Regions from separate parts of the Homo sapiens genome. Here region 1 is linked to region 2. A link means that fine-mapping ties the variant in region 2 to the expression of a gene that starts in the linked region. Tissue or cell type: whole blood. Region 2 holds a variant in brackets; the other region holds the start of a gene. All regions are shown on one strand. Distances are between the middles of the regions.

Region 1 (8,000 bases), 65 kb before region 2:
TCCTGGCTAACAAAGTGAAACCCCGTCTCTACTAAAAATACAAAAATTTAGCTGGGCGTGGTGGCGGGCACCTGTAGTCCCAGCTACTCGGGAGGCTGAGGCAGGAGAATGGCGTGAACCCAGGAGACCGAGCTTGCAGTGACCCGAGATCGTACCATTGCACTCCAGCCTGGGTGACACAGCAAGACCCCGTCAAAAAAAATAAATTAAAACAAAAACAAAAAGCAAGTGCAACATTTTACCACGAACAGACCTACTGTAAAGGAACTTCTAAAGGCTATACTTTAGGATGAAGGAAGGTAATCCCAGGAGGAAGGTCTGAGGTACAGAAAGATAAGATGAGCAAAGACATCATCACATGTATCAATGTACAAATACTCTGAATGTAAAATAACAGACCAATCTATAGGGTTATAAATATAAACTAAAATATTAGATGACATTAGCACATAAATTGAATGGGTAATCTGAATTAAAGAATTATAAAGTCCTTGTAGTGCTCAGTGGCTTGGTGAAATAGGATCTTTAACCTTTGCTGGGTGTGCATGATACATTTTAAGACTACCTTGGACTTTCCTTGCCCCAGTCATGGAATCAGCCACTTCTCCAAGGAGTTCTGTTTCCTTTAAGTAAATAATAGTATTACAAAACCGGGACTTGGGTGTTAATCTGTTCACTGTTACTGTAGTGTCATTGTTTCTAGATCCTTTCAGTGAACAGAGCTAGGAAGCACTTTTTAGTAAGTCATGTGTTAATCTTGCTACCTCCAAGTCAAAACTGACACCACAGATTCTTCCTCTTCTTTCTCCATTCTACATCTTTATCTCTCTTCTCCCAAATAAGAACTCTGATTTTCAACAGTATCAATATTTGCTTGATTCTACCATATAGATAAATTTTACTAGAACTGCAGCTGGCCAGGCATGGTGGCTCATGCCTGTAATCCCAGCACTTTGGGAGGCCGAGGTGGGTGGATCAGCTGAGGTCAGGAGTTCAAGATCAACCTGACCAATATGGTGAAACCCCATCTCTACTAAAAATACAAAAATTAGATGGGCACGGTGGTGTGTGCCTGTAGTCCCAGCTACTCGGGAGGCTGAGGCAGGAGAATTGCTTGAACTCGGGAGGTGGAGGTTGCAGAGAGCCGAGATCACACCACTGCACTCCAGCCTGGGCGACAGAGTGAAACCCCATCTCAAACAAAAAAAAGAACTACTGTAGCAATGCATTATCAACAACAAATCTACTTCTTAGAATTTATTTAGACCCATGTTAGACTTTATTTTATCCATCGTATCTCTTAATTTCTCATTAGTATTTCTCATCTTCTTATCTTTTATATGCTATATTCTAGGTACTTTCTGCAGATTTTGTGCCAATTCCCTAATTCTTTCTTTTGTTCTAATATAACATGTAACTCATTTTTAAAGTTTCAATAGTTACGTTTCTTTCTAACAGTTTATTTAATTCTTTTTCTAATATTCCTGATTGATTTCTGTTCATTTTTGCTATTCCTTCTTCTATTTCTGTATATATTTCATACATAGCTATTTTGTATTCAAGCTGATTTTTCCAATTTCAGAAATCCTGGAAAGTCTGAATAATTGTTGCTTTTTCTAGATTCTCATTTGACGGTGTTCATTCCTCTGTGGTCATGAGCTCATATTTTTTGAAAAACCTAGAGGCCTAAGTTGAGGATGCCTTCTTCAGAGATGATTGTGTTTGTTTCCTTTGGGATCCAGATGATGCTCCTGACCTGGGACCACTTTGACCCCTTCTAAGCTCCCCTGGTTGATTTTCTAGTCCCTGGTCCAGCTCAGCCCTATTGCCACGGGTCCAAGGCTTCGTCAGCTGGTTGAAATGCTGAAATGGGATTTGCCTTTGGGCCACCTTTGCCTTTCAGGTACGTTCACTGCTCTGCTCAGATATTAGGTACTTTTTAGAAGGGGTTAGGAGTGCTTGGAGAATTTTTATTCTTCTATTGTGAAACGTGACAAAAAATATGTTTTGTGCATGCTCTACTTGTTTTAAAACAGAAGAGTTCTTCAGAAGGAATAAATGCTGTTTGTCCTCTTTTTGTTTTCTCTCTCTTTCCTTCCTTCCTTTCTCTTTCTCTTTCTTTTGGGAAACCTACCTTTCCTCATTCTGAAATATCATTTTTCTGAGGGATCTCCTACTACTTCCCTGACTTTTCTTTTTTCAGTCTGTCTCTTCCTCACCCCTACTCTTTCTTTCTCCACTCTTTAGAGGATGGAGTTTTCCAGAATCCCATCCCTTCTTTCTTCTTACTGTTTATTTCATCTATATCCATGATTTCATCCACAGTATCCCAACATATCTGTATTTCTAGCTCTAAAAGAACCCTAAGTTGCAAATCTATATTACAAACTCCCTTCTTGTAATCTGCATAAGGATTTTTCTCAATTCAAAAATTTCAAAACTGGGCTTGTTATCTCTCACATCCTCCATCCCTAAATCAGCTCCTCCTCTATTATTTTCCAACTTGGTCATGGATACCACTATCCACCAGTCATCTAAGCCTGATGGTCCTGCCGATTTTAACTCCTAAACATCCCTTGAATTCTGTCTTTCTCTGTCCTATTTCCATCATCACTGCTAGAGTTGGATCCTTATCATTTCTTCCCAGTCAGTTGGGAGAAAGACTCCCAATCTTTCTCTTGCCTCCAGACTTGCAGCTCAAATCCACCCTACCCACTGCTCCTCTTGGGATCTTTCTGAAATGCAAATGTGAACATGTCACTCTTCTGTGGGAGATTCTTCACTGGTCTTCCTCATTGACACATGTTAAAGCTTAGGCTTCATAACTGGGTATATAAAGCTGCTATGACCTATCTAACTTATGCTTTTTACTTTGCCTGCCTACTTCACTTATTTATTGGAGAGCAATGAATCTTTTATTTATTATTATTATTATTGAGACGGAGTTTTGCTTTTGCTGCCCAGGCTGGAGTGCAATGGTGTGATCTCAGCTCACTGCAACCTCCGCCTCCTGGGTTCAAGCTATTCTCCTACCTCAGCCTCCCAAGTAGCTGGGATTACAGGCATGCGCCACCACGCCTGGCTAATTTTTTGTAGTTTTAGCATTTTAGTAGAGATGGGGTTTCTCCAGGTTGGTCAGACTGGTCTCAAACTCCCGACCTCAGGTGATCCGCCCACCTCGGCCTCCCAAAGTGCTGGGATTACAGGCATGAGCCACCGCGCCTGGCCATTTATTATTATTATTATTTTGAGACAGAGTCTTGCTCAGTCACCCAGGCTGGAGTGCAGTGGCACGTTCTCCGCTCACTGCAACCTCTGCCTCCTGGGTTCAAGTGATTCTCCTGCCTCAGCCTCCCGAGTAGCTGGGATTACAGGCATGTGCCACCACACCCAGATATTTTTTGTATTTTTAGTAGAGATGGGGTTTCACCATGTTGGCCAGGCTGGTCTTGAACTCCTGACCTCAGGTGAGCCACTCACCTGGGCCTCCCAAAGTGCTGGGATTACAGGCATGAGCCACTGAGCCCCGTCTGTTTTTAAATGTTTATTTCAATAGCTCTTGGGGTACAAGTGGTTTTTTGTTACATAGATGAATTATATAGTGGTGAATTCTGAGATTTTAGTGCACCCATCATCTGAGTAGTGTATATGGTACCTAGTGCATAGTTTTTTTTATCCCTAGGCTCTCTCCCATCCTCCCCTTTCTGAGTCTCCAAAGTCCATTATTTCACTGTGTATGCCTTTGCATACTCATAGCTTGGCTTTTGCTTATAAGTGAGAACATACAGTTTTTGGTTTTCCACGCCTGTATTACTTTGCGTAGAATAAGGACCTCCCACTCTTCCAAGTTGTTGCAAAAGACATTATTTCATTCTTTTTTTGTGACTGAGTAGCAGCCTATGGTGTATATATACCACATTTTCTTTATCCACTCATTAGTCAATGGGCACTTAGATTGGTTCCACATCTTTGCAATTGTGAATTGTGCTGCCATAAACATACGCGTGAAAGCCTACTTCACTTTAAGCTGTGAGGGCCACAGGCATGTCTGTCGTGTCTACCTTGGCGCTATTCTTGGTCCCAAGCCCACATCCTGACACCTAATAATTACTAACTTGCCGCACCACTGCTTCATCACTTATGTTTCTGTTTCGTAGACCCTTTTTGCCAGCCAATCTGAACTATTTGCAGTAACACAAGTGTGCCTTCCTCTCTAAATTCTAGACTAGTTACAATTTACCCATTTATTCACACATTCAGTCATTTTTCTTGGAATTACCACTATCTAACTCTGTGGCTGATACTAGGCAGGTTCTCTGAATGAATAAATGGAAACAAACTTAGAAGGGCAGCTCAAGAGGTAATACATACCCAAGGAATTGACCAATTTAAGGAACTGCATACAAGAACAGTTTTTCCCCAGGCACAAGTAAACAAGTGCAAGTATGAGGCAAACAGACTTCCTTCTCTTGCTCTGCCCGGTCTGGGAACCATATTTTAATTAATCAAGACTTTGTAGAATGAATCGGAACAAAACCAAAACAAAATAAAGGGCAAACAAACCAACTTCTGACAAAGACCTGACTGAAAAGGTAATCAACTCCCCTAAACCCCAAGTCTAAATGGCACACTTGCTGCAGCTCAGCCGACAGTCCCCCGGCTCCATGAAGCCCCGCCCCGGGGAAGGCGGGGCCTGCGGGAATTGGCGGGGATTTCCCGCGAGGCCACGCCCTCTCTGGGCCGGCCGTAGGCCCGCCTGCTGCCCCCGCCGTTTCCTAGGAGATGAAACACACAAGACGCCGGAGCTTCACAAGGGAGCGAACGAGGTAAGCAGCAGGCGCGGACAGGTAATCCCCAGCGGGCTGCAGGGCCACCACCCTCTGTCCGACCCAGCCGGAGCCCGACCTGCGAGGCTGGCCGGGCATGTCCCCTCGGCGCCCTGTGCTACCAGGGCCAATCTCCGCCCGGAGACCGGTCCCTGACGCCGGTAGGGGAAGGACTGGAGGGAGGAGGGTCCCCGGAGGGGCGGAGCGGGCGGGAGTGGTCAGCCCGAGGGAAGGCGGTCGGTGTCTCCCAGACCTCTTGACCACTTTCCCGCCTCCTGGACCGCGGGGGCCGGCCTGGCGTGGGAGGATGACGGCCGGGCGTCCCTTAGCCTGAGACCCCCGCCCCTAAACTCTCCTCCGGGATCTCCCACCTCTGCTCCCCTGCTGCTTGGGCTGGCGGTGGAAACTGTTTTTAGGACAGAGAGGCAGGATTGGGTCTCAGGGAGGCAGCGGAACTGAGTTCAGAACTGTTGCAAAATCTAAAAGGAGGGAGAAAAACAGGAATTAGGTCCGACTCCAGCCCTCGCTGGTGCATCCCAAAGGACGCTCAGGTGAAAGTGGAATTCCGCACACCCCCGTCCCCCCCAACGGCGCCGGACTCCCGGCGCCCGGGGACGCCCCCTCCTTCCACCACGCGGTCCCTGGAGCCTTTTAAGAGCCCTGGTTTGCAGAGTCGGATCAGAAAGTGTGTGACGAAAACTGTCCCTTTTCTGCAAGTAATCCGTTTTAATTTAGGGACAGGTCGAGAGTGCGGTGTCGAGAGCAATAAAACTGGTTTTTAGTGGTTAGTAATCTCAATCCTACAAGGAAAGAGCTGTATGCAAATGTGGTTAGATAATCGTTTAAAAGAAACAGACATTTGTTCTAATGATAACGGAATTCTCAAAGAGGGAAGCCAAAGTTATCTGACTTTATTTATTCAGAAACACAACCCATTAAGTGAAATAATGGTGAAAACAAAAGTGACTTTCCAGCTTTTCGATCGGGCCCCGCCTCCCCGGCCCTTCAATTCCCGAGGCTTGACCGGGAGGGAGAAAGTTCCCCCAACCGCGCCACCGCCTGCTTCCACTGCAGGCACCGGGCAGGACGTTTAATCTCTTCGTCGGGGTGGACTTTTTTTGTGTATAAGCTTTGAAATAATTTGTGAATATGAGCACAGAGAACTGTGCTTTTATATTTTAAGATACAGTCTTTGTTTTCCCATTGTAATAGCTCATTTAATTTCTGTAAAACTTCGACTTGGTTAGTTTGGGATCTTTTTTTCCTGCGTTGCTTTTTAAAGAGTTTGGTGACTTTTAAAACGTTAATTACTCTTTTGTTGTGTATTAGAAGCGTTAAGCCAGCCTCGGAGTGACATAATATGTTCTAGAAAGCCACGTTGAAGACATCCAAGCCTTATCTCTTCAGTTTTTGGCAGACGCTTGTTTTACCCTTCATTTGCCCTCTTTGCTAATCTTCTTTAATCCTATCTGAATCTCTTATTAGCTGGCAAAAGCTGTTGAGAGTAAAGGCTATATTTACAACAATTGTGCACTTAGAGAAACGGTAATTATGAACTTAGATTAAAAAGTTGAAAACTAGAATGAGAGATAAATTATAAGGGTATTTATTTTTGTGTAGGTCTATAATTAAGCCTCTAAATAAGCATCTTTTTCTTTAACCCATAGGAAGGTCAATAAATGTTATAGCTTGATTGTAGAAAATTCCAAGTTTTTAACAATTCTGTTAAATTGAGGATGATAGTTATATTTACTTGGGTTTTTTGTTGCATATGTATCATATCTATATATATTCATGTACATAAGAAACTGTGTTAATATATTCCTATTTTGTAGATTAGTTTTCCATAGGTCAACAGAGAAGAATATATGTAACTTGTAGAGAAATATTATTGTGCGTGAACTGGAGAACCATGGGAAGCCTGTGTTTAAGGAACATAGACTGCTTTTTGATTAGTAATCAGTAGTTGCTATGCCACATTGATAAAAGTAGTTGCTTATGTGCTATCAGGGAGCAGGGACATGGAATAATGATTTTTTAAAAGCTTTACCTTGATGTCTATGTCTCTACATTAGACAATTGTATGTTCAGGGGATAGAAGGAACAGTTGCAATGATCAGCGTCTCACCCTGGGCAGCTGTTGATTTTGTAATTAATGTAGTTCAAAAGAAGCCTTTCCAAAGTTTTTTCTTAGGGAGCGCAGTATGTAAAGTTGTTTTACTTAAAGGTTAGGTAGGGCTTAAATGGGACAGATCCTCACAGAACCACTAATCTGACCTTTTAAAAATCTATGTCACGTCCGTAATCCTCAACACTCCACCCCTCAAACAGAAAGGAGCTGGGAAATGGTCGTGTTCCTTGCTTATTCTTCCCTCAATATAAGTACACCCTATCCTATAGCCATCATCCGTTGAAAGACAATTGGTGTTGCCGGTGTTTATTCAGAAGTTGATTGGTTAGGCTTGGAATGAAGTTGCCAAAATAGCCACTCGCAAAGAGACTGTGCACGCAGGCTTGGGTCGAAAGTCATCAGTGACTGAATGCTCTATTGTGCTGATAGTGCTGGTGCAGCTTCAGGTCACCCTCCCACCCCAGGGCGGTGGTGATGGGGGTGGCTGATGGCCTTAATAGTGGAAGAGAGAGGTGTAATTAATTCTTAATTTTTAGATTGTTGGGCCAATGAAGGTGATTTTTTTGTCACTCTTTGTGTTTCCACTTCCTGAATAACACTCGCTACCATCATTACCATGCAACCAGAGGCAGCTCCCTCTTCCATTCCCTTCTCAAGTCATATGTCCTTTTTCAGAATTGTCTGCATTACTTTTCTACCTTTTAGACCCTCAAATGCTTGTCCTTGGTTAGGTGTTAACATGAAAATAATTTGGTTAAAAGAAAAGATGATGCTATCATACCATTATGTTTCTGAATTAAATAATTTTCATGGCTGGGCGCAGTGGCTCACGCCTATAAACCCCAGCACTTTGGGAGGCCGAGGCAGGTGGATCACATGAGGTCAGGAGTTCAAGACCAGCCTGGCCAACGTGGTAAAACCCTGTCTCTACTAAAAATACAGAAATTAGCCGGGCATGGTGGCACGCGCCTGTAATCCCAGCTACTCAGGAGGCTGAGGCAGGAGAGTCCCTTGAACCTGGGAGGCGGAGGTTGCAGTGAGCA
Region 2 (8,264 bases):
CTGAGTTCTTTCCCATCTCAGGTCCTCTGCCCAAACTGTTGCCTCTTCAAGGATCGCACCTCCCCACCCCTTAAAACACATTTATGCCTAGTGTTCCATTATTGGAACGCTAAGCATGTGGGAGTTGTATCCTACTGCTGAAGGTCATCGCCAAGGTCTGATTGCAAAATTTCAAAAAATTGCAACCTCAGGCATAAATGAGGGTTAATCATGATTCACATTTCAGCTTAAAATTGCTTATTTGAAAGAAAGACTGGCTGAGTTGCTTCTGTTATTTGCCCCCTCCACCCCAGATTCTTCTAAACATGATGCACCCTGCTCATTATGTATTTACTTAGTTATGACTAAAACTGTCTCCCTTCTCATTAGATTCTAAGAGCCAAAGAGTAGAAACTGGTCTATTTTGTTTAGCACTTTTTCTCCAATGCCACGCACTGCCTGGCACTGGTAGGTGCTCAGTAAATATTTGCTAACTGACTTTTTTATGTCCTTTGAGGCAAGTGATTATCATCATGTAATGACATCTATCATTATAATATCAAATTAATTTATGCTTCTTCCTAACAGTGTTTGGTTTGTAGGAGGTACCCAGTGAAAACTTATAAACAAATAAATAACAAAATTCTAGGATATATCTATTTCCAACAAAATTGGAATCTTTATCTTAAATAGACCTTGAGGCCAGGCGAGGTGGCTCATACCTGTAATCCCAGCACTTTGGGAGGCTGAGGCAGGCGGATCACCTGAGGTTGGGAGTCCGAGACTAGCCTGACCAACATGGAGAAACCCTGTCTCTACTAAAAATACAAAATTAGCCGGGCGTGATGGCGCATGCCTGTAATCCCAGCTACTCAGGAGGCTGAGGCAAGAGAATCACTTGAACCTGGGAGGTGGAGGTTTTGGTGAGCTGAGATCACGCCATTGCACTCCAGCCTGGGCAACAATAGCAAAAGTCTGTCTCAAAACAAAAGAAAACAAAACAAACCTTGAATTAAACTAGTTATCTTCAATAATTTACTTACCTTTTACTTTAAAATACTTAAAAAAAAAGCCTATTTAGGAATATTGCCAAGGCCAACTGGATTAACAACATCATTTAAATATTCAGAACTCATTCTTTGTTATGACAACTGTGTTCACACAGATTTTTAATGTTTTACCCCTACCTTGCACTTCCTTTTTGGGTAAATACATTTTTTTTTTTTTTTGTGACAGTCTTGCTCTGTAGACCAGGCTGGATGCAGTGGCACAGTCTCAGCTCATTGCAACTTCCACAACTTGGGTTCAAGTGATTCTCGTGCCTCAGCCTCCCAAGTAGCTGGAATTACAGGCAGGCACCACCACACCCAGCTAATTTTTTTTGTATTCTTTTAGTAGAGACAGGGTCTCACCATGTTGGCCAGGCTTGTCTCGAACTCCTGACCTCAGGTGATCCACCTCCCTCAGCCTCCCAAAGTGCTGGGATTACAGGCATGAGCCACTGTGCCTGGCCTAAAGATGTTTTAATATGAGTAATTGCCACCAAGTGCATCTTTATGGTTAGGTAGTTGCCTTTTTTTTTTTTCTTTTGAAATGGAGTCTCACTCTGTTGCCCAGGCTAGAGTGCAGTGGTGCGATCTCGGGCTCACCACAACCTCTGCCTCCCAGGTTCAAGCGATTCTCCTGTCTCATGCCTGGCTAATTTTTGTGTTTTTAGTAGAGATGGGGTTTCACTATGTTGGCCAAGCTGGTCTCAAACTCCTGACCTCGTGATCCGCCCGCCTCGGCCTCCCAAAGTGCTGGGATTACAGGCATGAGCCACCGCACCCAGCTGGTAGTTGCCTATAATAGTTCGATTTGTAGGTGTTTTATTAGGGAAGTTATATCCTATAAAGAAAGGGAAATTACTTGCCTGATGAAGTGTTTCCTTAGAGAACTGATAATGGGTAACTTTTGAGGTGCAGTATTTCTGGTTTCAAAATAAGGGATATTATTATATATCTCATACATATGAAACCTTTCTAAGGAATCCAGCTCGCGGAAAGCAAAAGCTCAACTGCCTGGAGACAGTTCTGACTTCCTAAATCAGTGGAGTCCTCAGTGATGATTTCTACACTAGATAAAGAAAACTCTCCGTGAATGACCAAAAGGCATAGACTGCTCAAGTTCACTCTAATTTAATTATCAGTGAAAAGAAAACAAGCTCAAGAAGTTTTCAGTCTCTTAAGAACAGGTTGAAACAACTCCCTTTGACCACTAGTATCACGGCCCAAGGCTGAATGGACATTTCACAGATTTCAGAAAATCATAAGTAATTTAAACTGTTCTTTTTCCAAGTACATTTGCAATGACTTCTTTCTGGCGCACAGGGGATAAACTGTTTCCATTTTACTGTATCTCATATACAAATAAGCGTTTCAGGTGGAGCTTCATACCTCCGAACTTCAAAGGTTTTCCTGAGTTCTTAGTCACGTGTCTGTTTTCCCTGCTACACCAAGGGTTGGGCCAAGAATATACGCTCAAAACAAGTGACATGAAAATGTCATGTTGGGTCGGGTGTGGTGGCTTACACCTGTAATCTCAGCACTTTGGGAGGCCAAGGTGAACGGATCACTTGAGGCCAGGAGTTTGAGACAGCCTGGCCAACATGGTGAAATCCCCTCTCTACTAAAAATACAAAAATTAGCCAAGCATGGTGGTGGGTGCCTGTAATCCCAGCTACTCGGGAGGCTGAGACACAAGAATCACTTGAACCTGGGAGGTGGAGGCTGCAGTGAGCCAAGATCACACCATGGCACTCCAGCCTGGACGACAGAGAGAGACCCTGTCTCAAAACAAAACAAAACAAAACAAAAAAAACGTCGTGTTGTTGAAGAAAAATTTTTGTGCCATCTCAATTTTTACAAGACCCTTAGCAAGAACATCAAGTGTTATTATTATATTGTAGAAAATATCTTCTGCCTATAAAGTACACTGTCAACATTCCAGGTGGTTGTGCTAAGGGCTTGGTATCATGTTAGGGTTCATCAGAAAGCAAGTATCTGCTACATTTTCACCTAGATTTATTTCCATTCTCCTGTCCAAGGTGTCTCTAGTCTTTGTTTGAATGTATTACATAAGTTTCCTTTAAGTTTATGATCTGCTCTAACCTTTGAAGTGGTTGTTTTGTTCTTCTCAGGTGTGAATCCCAAGAAGGTGTCCTTGATAGCCAGTGGAAAGGAAATAAACCCCCACACTTGGAGCAACCAGTTATTCCCCAAGTCACTGGGACCCGTTGGGGCAGAACTTGCTTTCAAAAGGAGCAATGCAGGTAACGCAAGAATACAAAATGTACATGTACGGGGTTTTCCTTTATAGAGGTCTACTTTTAAATATATTGCAGTGCTCTTCCAACCAAGATACATGTGCACTTGGGAGATACACAAAGGTTTTCCACTACACTCTGCCTATGGGTAGCCCTGCTCTGCTGGAGCAGTCATGGAGTTGTAACACTGCCTCTTCAATAAAACTGTTTGTAGCTGGATGAGCATGGTGGTTCACACCTGTAATCCCAGCACTTTGGGAGGCGGAGGTGGGCAGGTCCCTTGAGCCTAGGAGTTCGAGATCAACCTGGCCAACATGGTGGAACTGTGCCTCTATATTAAAAAGTACAATAATAAAAAAAAGGTTTTCCCACTAATTCTTGAGTACAGCTAGTTTTAAGGGAATTCTCGACCTCCATCTGAATCTTTCCTGAAATGGGTCTGCCCTAGCAAGGAGTTTCTATTCTGAAAAGAAGACTTCTCACTGGCTACCATGGTGTGTTTTCTTTTTCCCCAAAATGTAAAAATATCTGGGGTGCCAATGAAATGGAAATTCTGGTATGTTGATGTCACTGTTGAGAAAGTAAGTAACTTTGATTTGATGACTGAGGAACAGGTCCTTTTTAAAGTCA[A/G]GGAGTCTTAACAGTTCTCAGCATTTAGAAAATTGAAGGAGGACCTACTTGAATTGTTAGCTGACAGGTAATTTAAAAAGTTTTTTTAATTTTTTTTTATGAGATCAGTATATGAATTTTGGTCTGTAATTTTGAAGAGCGTTTGAAGAATAGAGTGGCAAAGCTATCACAAAACCGCTTTTGTTCCCAACTATCTATTTGTATTAGCAAGATTTCTTAATGCTTCTGTCTCCAAAAAGGAAGAAAAAAGAAAAGAGAGAGAAAATAGCCCTGATGCTGTGATTCCAGCAATAAATATTCATTTGTTGATACATGAACTACTTGAAAATAACCCCACCTTTCTCATTAAGAGATGTGTTTGCAAAAAACTTAATTTTCGTGTTTAGTAATCAAAATATATAATACTCAACTTTTTTGATTAATTATATACAATGAATCATTGTAATTATAACTTTGTACAGTATGTTAATATCCTTATGGTTACAAGAAATTAAAAAAAGTTTTAATTTACACATATTTTAGAGTGACCAATTTTAGACTTTTAAGCCTAAGATTACATTTGGATAAAATTTGGAAGCTGAGGTATAAATAAAGATATAATTTTAAGGGAAAAAAGAATTAATGTGAAATGTCCAAGCATCAAAAAGGAACTTGTTCATGTATTTTTATGTCAATATTGGAGGACATAAAATCACTAATAGTTTTGGCCAGGTGCAGTGGCCCACTCCTGTAATCCCAGCACTTTGGGAGGCCGAGGTGGGCGAATCACAAGGTCCGGAGTTCGAGACCCGCCTGACCAACATGGTGAAACCCTGTCTCTACTAAAAATACACACACACAAAAAAAAATCCAGGCATGGTGGCATGCGCCTATAAATCCAGCTGCTCAGGAGACTGAGACAGGAGAATCGCTTGAACCCAGGAAGTGGAGGTTGCAGTGAGCCGAGATCACACCACTGCACTCCAGCCTGGGCGACAGAGCGAGATTCTGTCTCAAAAAAAAAAAAAAAAAAATCACTAATAGTTTTATTTTTTAAATGCCTATAGTTACAATATGTCAGAAATAACATCCTTTGCAACTGTTAAACTTATGATTAAAAATTTTAAATATCAACTTAAAAGTGTGTGAAGAGGTACAGTTTGTTTTTTAATGTAGGTGATATTGGATCAAAAAACTTTGACAATTACCATTATAAGTGAGTAGTTTAGTGAGATATTCTGATGTGACATCAATATATTTGGGCTTTTTACAAGTTTTCCAGATTCTTTAAAAACTCAGTTTATCCATTTAATGTCGCTGCGGTGTCATACACTGCAGCACTGTAATTTACTTATTTTTTCTTCAGATAATTAAAATTAATATTCACTGAACCAACCAGTTACACAAATTCAATTAAATGACAGTAGAACAACTTTGAGTCTCAAGGGAATATACAGTTGGCATCAAATAAATGCTGTGACAACAATGGGGACATTTTTGCATTTTTAAGGGCTCTTTCTGGATCTTTTCATTAATCATCTAATCCATTTTTTCTCTGCTTTTCCTATAACATTCTCCTTACTATTATTCTTTCTTTCCATCTGTCTTCTCTTTAGAAGAAAGCATAATTAAACCAATCGAAAAACTATCATGCAATGAAACTTTTCCTGAAAAATTAGAGGACCCACAAGGTAATTTCTGGGCGTCAGATGAATGCAGTTTGTTCTTTGAATCTCTTGTCTGATTTTCTTCTCAACATTTGCCCCTAATCCTGACATAAAAGGCCGAGATGATCCGCTTTGAGAAGTCAGATCAGGACTAAGATAAAGAAAAGCATTCTGTCTCATCAAGAATATCTTCCTTCAGTAACTGAGATTTTAAGATGAATATGCTCTCAAAAAGCTCTGTGCTGGTCTTCTTAAATTAATTACGGAAATTTATAGAGGAAATCAAGCAAATAATTCTAATGAAAAGAATCAAAAGAGTATTTTCTAATTTTGCGATCTATATTCCTGGAATTTTTTTTTCAAAGTTCTGAAACTCATTTCTTAAGCATGAACAACCACTTTTTTAAAAAGGTTAGGCTGGGCGCGGTGGCTCACACCTGAAATCCCAGCACTTCAGGAGGCCGAGCCGGGCAGATCATGAGATCAAGAGATAGAGACCATCCTGGCCAACATGATGAAACCCGTGTCTCTACTAAAAATACAAAAATTAGCTGTGTGTGGTGGCATGCACCTGTAATCCCAGCTACTCAGGAGGCTGAGGCAGGAGAATCGCTTGAACCCGGGAGGCGGAGGTTGCAGTGAACCAAGATTGCGCCACTGCACTCCAGCCTGGCAACAGAGCAAGACTCCATCTCAAATAAATAAATAAAAATTAAAAAAAAAAAAAGGTTAACTGGGTTAATAGAGATGGTGGATTTCCTAGGGGTTCAGTGTTACTGGTTTCAACAGTGCTAACAACTGGCTGCAATCTGAAAATTCACAGCATACAAGGTACTTCAAATAATAAGCCAAAATAATTTAAGAAGACTTAATTTTCTGTTCATGTTTTTTCCCTAACAACTTCTTTCTCCAATAAGAAGCATCATAATGCATGAATCCTAGAGTCTGATATATCCCATTTTGTCACTCACCAGCTTTTGTGGTTTGGGACAAGTTGTTTAAGCCAGCTTTCCCGTCCATAAAACGGACGAAATTTCCTTAGGTATTCTTACATAACCCTACCTGGAATTTTAACACATGCTAAGCATTTAATAAGTGTTTGCTCTGCTGATGAGGATGAGAGCAAGAGACATGACTGAAGCTGCTAGTGAATGCAATCACTGCTTTGAATTTCCTTCCGAAAATTTTTCTGAAGTAAAGAACTGATTAGTGTTTCAGAATGAGTTTCTGAGATGGGAAAAAGGTTAAAGTAGGCAGCTGAACTTACACAAAATTCAGTAGGGTTAAACATGTATAGACTGAGAGCATGTGCTCACTGTATGTAACCCTTTAGGGGCTGATAACATAATATTGCGCTTTGACATTTGTTGCTTCAAGAGCAGACACCTGTTGAAGCCTGATATGCCGTGAGAGACAACGGACACAGAGCCCAGTGTCGAGACGTGTAAACAGATAACGCTATAGAGAAAACACTGTTTACTGAACAGTGCTTTGAAACCACGAGGGTGATCAGAGCCCCATTTCGCCTTCTAGAGATAAACCTGTCTCCCTTCCTGCAGAGCTAGCTCCTCCTATTGCTTCTGGTTGTCGTTTGTCTTCAGTCTGCTTCCTGCCAGTGCAGCAGCTCCTGCTAGATCTTGACATCCTAGTGGCCAGATCCCAGGGGCGGTGCTGGTCCTATCCGAGCTCTCTGCCTCATCTCCCATTCCTTTTTTCCACACTCAGTGTGTATTCTCTTGGATTTCCATACCCTGTTCCTCCTACCATCCACCTCTCTACCTGTTCTCTTCCTCCATGAGGTCCTTTTCTCTCCTGTCCCTTAATGCTGGTGTTCCTTGGGGGTCTACTCCAGGTCTCTGCACATTCGCAGTGCCTCTGAGCTGGCTCCTTCAGCCCACAACTCTGTAACCACCACACCCTGATCATCACCAATCTCCACGCCTGCCCACTTGCCCTCTGCCTGCCACAACATGAATGTCCTCTGGGTACCATGTCTTTCCCCCAATCCTGATTCTCCTCCTATGTTGCTATTCATGGACAACGCACCCCCCAGTCACCTGAGCTGCAAACTTAGGAGTTTATATTTCCCTCTTTCCCTACCACCTCCACCCCGTGAACCTGCTTAGTTCCCTTCTTCTTCACCCTCTGCCACTGCTGTGGTTCAGACCCTCATCCTCCCTCATTTCAGCTCTTAGCAGTGACTTCCTCACTGGTCTCCAGACTTTAGATTTTTCCTCATCAATGCATCCCTATGCTAACGCCAGATTGAGCATTCACCAATAGTGATGATGATGATGGTGTTGATAATGATGGCAATTATGCTAGCTGACGTTTAATGCGTACAGATTCTATGCCACGTGCTCTGAAGAGTCTCATCAATCCCTACAACAACCCTACGAGAATAGGTCCACTTACAACCATTTTACAGAATGAAGACAGACACAGAGAGCACTTCAGAGATAGGGGCTTCGCAGTGGGAAATACACCCCCATGTGAAGAAGTGGGGTCGTGAGAAAGCCTGGCGTGTTCAGGGTGAACTGAACACCCCTGGGCCTTGAGTTCAGACCCCAGCTCAGTCTCTTACTAACTGTGAGAAGTTAGGCAAGTTACTCAACATTGGAGAGCCACACGATATGGATACTAATATGATCTAAGCGGGCTGTTGTATGGATGGAATAAGAATATCTGTAACAAGTGCAGCTCAG

The links. PIP is the estimated chance that this variant, and not a neighbour inherited with it, causes the effect.
Region 1: it holds the start of MAK, and the variant in region 2 is fine-mapped to the expression of MAK in whole blood (TOPMed, PIP above 0.99).

Annotation. Positions count from the first base shown.
Region 1 is chr6:10,835,329-10,843,328 of GRCh38, reverse strand. It overlaps MAK (male germ cell associated kinase), which reads left to right and starts at 4,790. Exons shown (of 15, transcript NM_001242957.3): 1 at 4,790-4,826. RefSeq lists enhancers at 4,108-4,267, 4,318-4,377 and a silencer at 4,598-4,727.
Region 2 is chr6:10,770,353-10,778,616 of GRCh38, reverse strand. MAK (male germ cell associated kinase) reads left to right here. Exons shown (of 15, transcript NM_001242957.3): 12 at 3,158-3,289; 13 at 5,509-5,583. Among named protein-coding and RNA genes, the nearest start is that of TMEM14B, 27 kb to the right of the region's middle. The variant A/G (reference allele first, on the strand shown) is at 3,914.